3 separate regions of the Homo sapiens genome follow, and all the other regions are linked to region 1. The links come from fine-mapping of genetic effects on gene expression. A gene starts in region 1. Each other region holds a variant in brackets. All regions are shown on one strand. Distances are from middle to middle. Region 1 holds the start of SIRT5 (sirtuin 5). Region 2 holds the start of LOC124901523 (U7 small nuclear RNA). Region 3 has its middle 9.8 kb from the start of RANBP9.

The links. PIP is the estimated chance that this variant, and not a neighbour inherited with it, causes the effect. A credible set is the group of variants that fine-mapping cannot tell apart.
Region 2: its variant is the best candidate, but not a certain one, in a credible set for the expression of SIRT5 in cerebellar hemisphere (GTEx, PIP 0.78).
Region 3: its variant is the best candidate, but not a certain one, in a credible set for the expression of SIRT5 in tibial nerve (GTEx, PIP 0.71).

What each region holds. Positions count from the first base shown.
Region 1 is chr6:13,573,181-13,575,944 of GRCh38, forward strand. It overlaps SIRT5 (sirtuin 5), which reads left to right and starts at 1,421. Exons shown (of 10, transcript NM_012241.5): 1 at 1,421-1,564. LOC105374937 (a long non-coding RNA gene) reads right to left here and starts at 1,254. Exons shown (of 2, transcript XR_926497.4): 1 at 785-1,254; 2 at 1-41. RefSeq lists a silencer at 974-1,493 and enhancers at 1,186-1,772, 1,704-2,183, 1,773-2,358.
Region 2 is chr6:13,677,812-13,680,575 of GRCh38, forward strand. The region is part of intron 2 of RANBP9 (RAN binding protein 9); the gene reads right to left. It overlaps LOC124901523 (U7 small nuclear RNA), which reads left to right and starts at 2,269; the gene lies at 2,269-2,330. The variant G/A (reference allele first, on the strand shown) is at 1,343.
Region 3 is chr6:13,720,297-13,723,060 of GRCh38, forward strand. No RefSeq gene overlaps it. Among named protein-coding and RNA genes, the nearest start is that of RANBP9, 9.8 kb to the left of the region's middle. The variant G/A (reference allele first, on the strand shown) is at 1,149.

The sequences.
Region 1 (2,764 bases):
ACCGCAGTTGTTTTAAGCTGGGTTACCTATAGATAAAGAGACTAGGAAAAAAAATCAAACAAACAAAACGGTTTAAAAAACAATGAGCATTTTCAGCTGTCTACTGTTTAAGAAAATAATGAGCTCTCAGTTTTGCCCTCTGAGCGATTTCTCCAGGACTGCCCTGGTAACACTACTACTCAACAGTTTTGTGCTTTGCGCAGTTACTTGACCTCCCTGGGCCTCGGTTTCCCCACCCATAAAGTGGGGATAACAGTACCTATTTCATCAGGTGGTGGGGACGATTTAAAATGGTTAATAATGTGCAGTTCTTAAAAGTGTCTGGCTCAGAATAAGCACCATACACGTTAGGGGGAAAAACAGCAGCCGGATGTGAGGCCCTCCCCAATTTCGTTACTCCATAAACCTCTGAGTTGCTGGTAACACCTGCAGGAATGAGAAGGGCCTCAACATGGGCTGAATTTCCAGCCAAACTGTGGGAAGTGGCTGAGATTTTAGGTAGGCAAAAAATGTTAATGTAACATTTTTGGCCCCCAAGTTCTCAGACCACTTACTTCCCTTTCTAGTCCACTGACATGCCCGCAAGCAATTCCATTCTGCCAAGTGGTGCTGGTGGCAAGCCGGAATCCAAGAAAAGGAAAGACTCCGATTTTAAGGGAACGGGGACATGCGGAGCCACGTGAGTCACTGGGTCCCAGAGCCACGGAAGGCTCTCAGCTCAGCAGTCAGAGTGCACTCGTCATTGCGTTCGAGGTTAGGTGGCCTAGCCTGGGAACCAACTCACCGTCATTTGAAATCGTTTTAGGGAAAATGACCCTAACATTTAAAATCCTCTCTCCTGAAGTTGTGTGGTCCAGCCGTTTGCTGAAGGAGGAAGCAAAGCCGGTAGTAACTCACTACATATTTGGGCAGTGGAATGAACCCTGGAAGCTGACAAAGTCGAAGCAAGTCACTGCGCCGCCCCCCACCCCCACCCCCACCCCAAATAAAAACAGAGAGACAATCCTTCAATTATAAAGAAGACCACGGCGCCCGGGTCTCCGGCAGGGGCCGCTGCAGCCGAGCAGAACGCTGAGCCGCTCCGCCCCACGGCCTCCTCTCCAGCCGGCGCGCCCGCCTCCCGCAGGTGCGTCTCTGCCTGCGCCGGGCCGGGGTCTCCGCGGCCTCTCCCGCTCGGGCTCCGGCTTCGAGGTCCCGACCAAGCACTGCTCTCGCGGGACTGCGCGCACCGCCCAGGGCCTGCCGCGGGCTCGCGAGCGGAGGTGGCACCGGTCCGCGGTGCGCATGCGCGGCCCGGCCTCTGCCCTGCGGTCCCGGGCTGGTGACTGGCTAGCGGTTGGAGGAAGGGATGTGGGGGATGGTGGGTGGGTACAGAGAGCTGGGAGGGAGGCACCCCGGGGGGCGGGGCGTGGGAGACTGTATTCGGGGGCGCGAGCTGCCCCAGGTGAGCCGTGGCTCAGGTCCGGAGCGCGGTCGGGACACAGCGCCTCTAGGAGAAAGCCTGGAAGGCGCTCCGGGGGTACCCAGAGCTCTTAGCGGGCCGGCAGCATGTGCGGGGCCCAAGGTCTTCCGGGCTCTGCGTGGGGGTCGCTGCGGCTGGAGACCAGGGAGGGGGATGGAAACGGGGTTGGAAAGTAATCCCACCCGAGCAGGTGGGCATGGGAGGCCGCTGTGCTGGGGAGCCCCGCGAGGGCTCCGAACAGAGCCTCCCTTTTCAGAAAGGTCACCCTGGTCATTGCAGCTGCCAGGGTGACCGAGGAAGGTGGCCGGGGTGGAGGCAGTGGGCGTGGAGAGGGGTCGGATTCCGGACGTAGTTTGAAGGTGGAGCCGTCAGGTTCTGCTGAGCAGCTTGGCTATGGGGCGTGCGAGAAGGGAAGGCTCAGGGCCTAGTCCCTGGGCACGAGTAGTAGCCGGGAGGATGAAGTCCCAGTGCTTCGGGGGGAGGCGGCTTGAGGACGGCTCTGGAGCTCAGGCTTGCCCGCGTGGAGTGGAAGCTGCCTCTTGGACACAGGGCGGGGAGGCCGCATGCAGTCTGGCGCGCTGGGAGGATGGGAGATCCAGAGGGGCAGGGCTGGAGGGGTAGGAGGAAAACCTGAAGAGGGTGGCGCCCGGAAGCCCGGGAAAGTGATGAACTGGGTCAGAGGCCGGGTATCAACAAATAGGAGGGTGGAGACGACCTTGAGGAAAGCAGGTGATGGAACGGGAGGGAATGGGGCCCCCTAGTGGAGACACCTGGGAGTGATGTATTGCATTTATTTAGCTCTTAGGCGTTCAAAAATTATTTATTGGGAGCCTGTACAACTTTTTGCAGTTCATTGCATTATCCTTAGCATGTATTTTGTTTTATATAAATATATATTTATATAATTATTTTTATTGACAAATTTATATATTTATAGCGTACAGTGTAATGTTTTGATATATGTATACATTGTAGAAAGATTAAATCAAGCTAATTGACATATCCATCACCTCACCTACTTATTTTTTGTGGTGAAAATCTACTCTCCTGGAAATATACAATACATCATCAACTATGGTCACCATGCTGTGCAGTAGATCACTAAAACTTACTCCTCTTACCTAACTAAAACTTTGTATCCTTTGACCAACATCCCTCCCTTCCACATCAGCCCTCTGCCAGGCCCCTGGTAACCATCATTCTACTCTGCTTCTATGAGTTCAACTTTTTTAGACCCCAAGTATATAAGTAAGATCATGTGCTGTTTGTCCTTCTGTGCCTGGCTTATTTTACTTGGCCTCA
Region 2 (2,764 bases), 100 kb after region 1:
AAAAACATTCCAGCAACAACTGCAGGCCAGGTGTGGTGGCTCAAGCCTATAATCCCAGCACTTTAGGAGGCTGAGGTGGGTGGATCACTTGAACCCAACAGTTTGAAACTGGTCTGGGCAACAAGGCAAAACCCCGTCTCTACATAAAATATAAAAAATTAGCCAGGCATAGTGGTATGTGCCTGCAGTGCCAGCTACTCAAGAAGCTGAGGTGGGAGGATCACTAAGTCCAGGAGTTCAAGGCTGCAGTGAACAGTGATCACGTCACTGTACTCCAGCCTGGGCAACAGAGTGAGATCTTATCTCAAAAAACAAACAAAAAACAATTACAGATGCTCCTGTGAAAATATTTCAATCAGGTTACATACTTGAGACGTATTTCAGTGTTTAGAAAAGGCAATCACTATCTAAAAGAAATGAGAACTTATAAAAAATAATAAAGAACCAAAAGGAAAGCAATTGTTGAGAAAGCTATGGTTCTCAAAGATTATTAACACAGAAATTATTTGACAAGGTAAACAGAACTTCAGCTGGCCACTGCATTTAAAACATGTTTCTTATTTACTATATTTTATTATGTTTTGGCTTTTTAAAAGCTTGCTGGCCAGGGCTAGTGCTTTCTTAGAGATAAGAGGGCTCACAGGAGCATGTCTTCCATATACAAACCAACCAATCCTGAGTCTACAGCCAAATCCACCTCCTTATCTAACGCTCACATACGAAGCCAGTATTTCCTGCCCTAAATCATTCCAGAGTCAGGTACCAGGCAATTAGAGACCACCTCTACAGCTCAAAGCCTGGAGGAATCATCCAAACTCTTCAATCCTCAACTGTTTACTCTGCCCTCCCTTGCCTTTCCCAGGAAATCCCAATACTCTGGCCTGGACTTTTCCGTGGCTCCTGTCTTCTGCTTCCTGACTAAAACCTGGTGCTTCCCCTGTGTAGCATGCAGTGACCCTCCCTGAGACCTGTGAGTATAATAAAATTCTTCCTTCTAAGCCTTATTCTCATATCCCCCTGCAGCTACCCAGACTTTACCACACCGTATCCAACACCTACATTCTTAGAATAGCCACTATTAATATACAAAATAAATTTAAGTATATGCATGCTCAAAATATTGCAAAGTGAAATATTAATCACCAGATGATTATCTGCACCAATGGAACTGAGGTAAGAAACTTAAAACTAAAGTAACAGAAAACAGAAATCCTTTTTTCAAACCTAGAACATTCTGCTGTGATTAAAAAAAAAATTTGTTCCAATTCTAATTCTATGCTGACAGTAAAGCAGCTACTTATCTCTCTCTACACTGCACCTTCTCTACCACATTCTTCCCAAA[G/A]CATAAAGAATCATGAAAAACAGAAATTCTTTCTTGCCTTCGGAAAGTTCACAATAATATACACCAAGCTGCATCTTTCTTCAGCTGCATCTTTCTCCCATTACCTCTCGAAGAGCTATAAAAATATAAATATACAATACCTAAAATTAAGGCCTGGCTATATTTACTAAGATGGCCTTCAAAGTACCTATTCATTTATCCTGCCTTTTAATAATTAAGACAATAAGGCTCTAAAAACAAGAAAAGCCTATTAGTTTGAGAGTTCCTCTGACGATTCTTTGTCGAATAATTCCATCTGTAGTTAACTACTACAACAACAACAAAACACAAAATAACTTGTTAAACTGTTAAATGTTAAGGAAAATAATCTATCATATGCATAAAACAACATATTCTACTTTTCACCCAACAGACACAAAATTGTTTATGTTTCCAATAAACTGACATTTTTGGTTAATAAAATTATTTATATTTTAATCCATATTTAAAATCTTGTTTTTCAACATATCCCTATAAGATTAATAAATAAAAAGTAGCAACTTTAAATCACACAAATAAGTTCAGAAGAAACTGATTTACATTTCAATTCTATAAACATTACAGGTTCTACTTGTACCAAATGAGATGTACCTATAAAACTATGGAGACTGAGATGCGTTTTACTGTTTTGTTTTTCAATAATATTTCTCTTCACAAGTGCTATAACTTAAAAATTACACTGGATGTTCAAGACTTGTTCACAGGAAGTCTCCAATTTTTAATATAAATCGGTCAAAAAATAGTGTTCTTATTTACTTAAGAATTACAAGGAAAAAAAGGAAAATTATTTCAGAAATAAAGACAAGCTAATTGGAACACAAAGTAAAAGACCCCACAAGAAAAGAGGAAAGAGAATGGAGGAAATTTTTAAAATAACGAAGTTAGTCAAGTGTTACAGATCCTTTAGAATTTCTCTGGCAGGTTTTCCAGTTTTTACCAAAAAACTCTTCAAAAAAACAAAATAATAGAAGAAGTTAGTCAAAGAAGACCCAACATACATTCATAATTAGAGTCCCTAAAAAACAAACCCATGTAATGGAACAGAACAAATACTGAAAACCATCATACGAAAAAACTTTTCTGAAATAAAACACTTGAACCTACTCTTAAGACCATACCAAGATCAACACCAAGACATAGTCAAGTAATGGTTCTTTAAAGAAAAAGAAAAATCTTTCAGGTAACAGGCAAATGACCAAATTTCTTGTAAGAAAAAAATGTCTGAAGACTTTGAAAATGTCCATGGAGCTCATAAAAAAACATGGCTGGGTACAGTGGTTCATGCGTGTAATCCCAGCACTTTGGGAAGCTGAGGTGGGAAGATCATCACTTGAGCCCAGGAGTTCAAGACAAGCCTGAGCAACACAATGGGACCCTGTCCCA
Region 3 (2,764 bases), 150 kb after region 1:
TGCCTGTAATCCCAGCACTTTGGGAGGCTGAGGTGGGCGGATCACGAGGTCAGGAGTTCAAGACCAGCCTGACCAACATGGTGAAACCCCGTCTCTACTAAAAATTAGCCGGGCGTGGTGGCATGCACCTGTAAACCCAGCTACTCAGGAGGCTGAAGCAGGAGAATTGCTTGAACCTCGGAGGCAGGGGTTGCAGTGAGCCGAGATTGTGCCACTGCATTCCAGCCTGGGCTACAGAGCAAAACTCTGTCTAAAAAAAAAAAAAGTAAAAATAGAGTAACTATAGGGAACAGATAGCAGGAATTCATTTCCTCCCTTGGTGCTACAGTGATCAAGTTCTTGATGGAATCATGGGATGGGAAGCCTACCCCAGAATGTCTCTGAACTCCAGGGAATGCCCCCTGCAGGTCTAGGAAGTGCCTATGGGTGCAGTGGCTGGAATATCATGCAGGCAGCCAAAGGCATAGTTTGGAGGGAAGAAACAGGAAGAAAGGAAGATGAAAGACAAAAATAGAAAGCATAGAAAAAATAAAAAAGAAGAAAATGATCATTCTTTAAGAAAATGATAAATAGCTCCCCAAGGTGCCAGATATCATTGAGGAGAATAACTCACCAACCCACTGTGGGTTAGGCTCCTAGTTCCCCAAGATGCAGGCTGCATTCCATTCATTATCTACTGAGTGCCTATTATGTGCCTATTGTGTGTACACAGCGCTAGGAAGCATAGGGGAAAACATTTTTAAGGGACACTAACATCTTTACCCTCAACTGGTTTATAGTTTTGTAGGAAATTGACTTACACAACCAGTTTTTCAAGGTAGAATATGAATAGTGTTCTAAGAGAGACAAAAAGTGCCATAGGTTTTTCTTCTTTTTTTGAGACAGAGTCTCACTCTTGTCGCCCAGGCTGGAGTGCAATGGCACAATCTCGGCTCACTACAACCTCCACCTCCTGGGTTCAAGCAATTCTCCTGCCTCAGCCTCCTGAGTAGCTGGGACTACAGGCGCCCACCACACACCTGTCCAATTTTTGTATTTTTAGTAGAGATGGGGTTTCAACATGTTGGCCAGGCTGGTCTATAATTCCTGACTTCAGGTGATCTGCCCGCCTTGCCCTCACAAAGTGCTGGCATGAGCCACCACACCTG[G/A]CCAGGTTTTTTTCTAATATCCTAGGAAAAGTAATTGTCCAGCCTATTGTAAGAATGTAACCCATTCTTACAAGTAAAATGAATTCTTCAATCTAAGTTTCTTTATATCTAGGCTACAGCATGGAGATAATTGATACAAATATTTTCTTATCATCATGGTCCTCAAAGAAAGTACCAGGCCTAATTTGCAATCTAAGTAAACATAAAAAGAAAGTTGTTTAGTAAAGCAATTTATTTCATAAGTCACTATTTCTTTCACCATAGCCATATACTATCTTATGCTTAGTAATGAATTTTTAAAAAACATTTTTATTTGTTTTCCTTAAGTGCCTTCAAAGATATGCTGGGAAAAATATGCTCAGCAATACGTGAGACTTCCCAAAACTGCAATATTTCAAAGATGTCAGAGCATCTGTATCTTAAAAAGCAGCATAGGCCGGGCGCAGTGGCTCACACCTGTAATCCCAGCTCTTTGGGAAGCCAAGGCAGGCGGATCACGAGGTCAGGAGTTCGAGACCAGCCTGGCCAACATGGTGAAACCTCATCTCTACTAAAAATACAAAAAATAGCTGAGTGTGGTGGTGGGCACCTGTAATCCCAGCTACTCGGGAGGCTGAGGCAGGAGAATCGTTTGAAACCTGGAGGCAGAGGTTTCAGTGAGCCGAGATCCCGCCATTGCACTCCAGCCTGGGTGACAGAGTGAGACTCCGTCTCAAAAAAATAAAAAAATAAAAAATAAAGGCAGCATAAATAATAAAATGGCTTCAAAATACTTTTTTTTAGTATTTTTCTGCTTCAGCTGCAATTAGTTTATTTTGCAAATATTTAACTTTGAAACAGGCATCAGTTATTTAAAGAGAGGTAGCATTGTCTGTGGAATTACCGGTCTGGCTCTTAATATCACCAACAGTCCCCCACATGTGCCTTATGCCATTGTCTATATGAAAACTTCTCATAGATAATAGATCTTTGACATTCTTAAGAGGCCCAGATCTTTCTGAATCCTTAAACTGTAAATCTCATGAAACAATATTATATCATCCCATAAAATTCAGTAAGTATAATTTGAATAGTCTACATGATTGAAGAACAACAAAGCCACACTGACATGTGGCTGTTGAGTGGTTGACTAGGCTACGTGTTTCCATGCAGTGCACTAACCTTAACACACATGGGATGCTATTAGCGCTTGGTAAAATTATGGCAAAACGGCCTTCTGCATTGCTTCTAAAGAGTCAAGACTGGCCAGGGTGCGGTGGCTCACACCTGTAATCCCAGCACTCAGGGAGGCCGAGGTGGGCAGATCACTTCAGGTCAGGAGTGTGTAACCAGCCTGGCCAACATGGTGAAAACCCATCTCTACTAAAAATACAAAAAATTAGCTGGGCGTGGTGCCGAGTGCCTGTAATCCCAGTTACTTCGTAGGCCAAGGCAGGAGAACTGCTTGAACCCGGGAAGCAGAGGTTGCAGTGAGCCCAGATCGCTCCACTGCACTCAACCCTGGGCGACAGAGTGAGACTCCGTCTCAAGAAAAAAAAGAAAGGAGTTAAGATTGTGGATGTTCAATGTGAGTCTAAATGTACAAGTTAGACTGTACAAGCTAAATGTACAAGCTC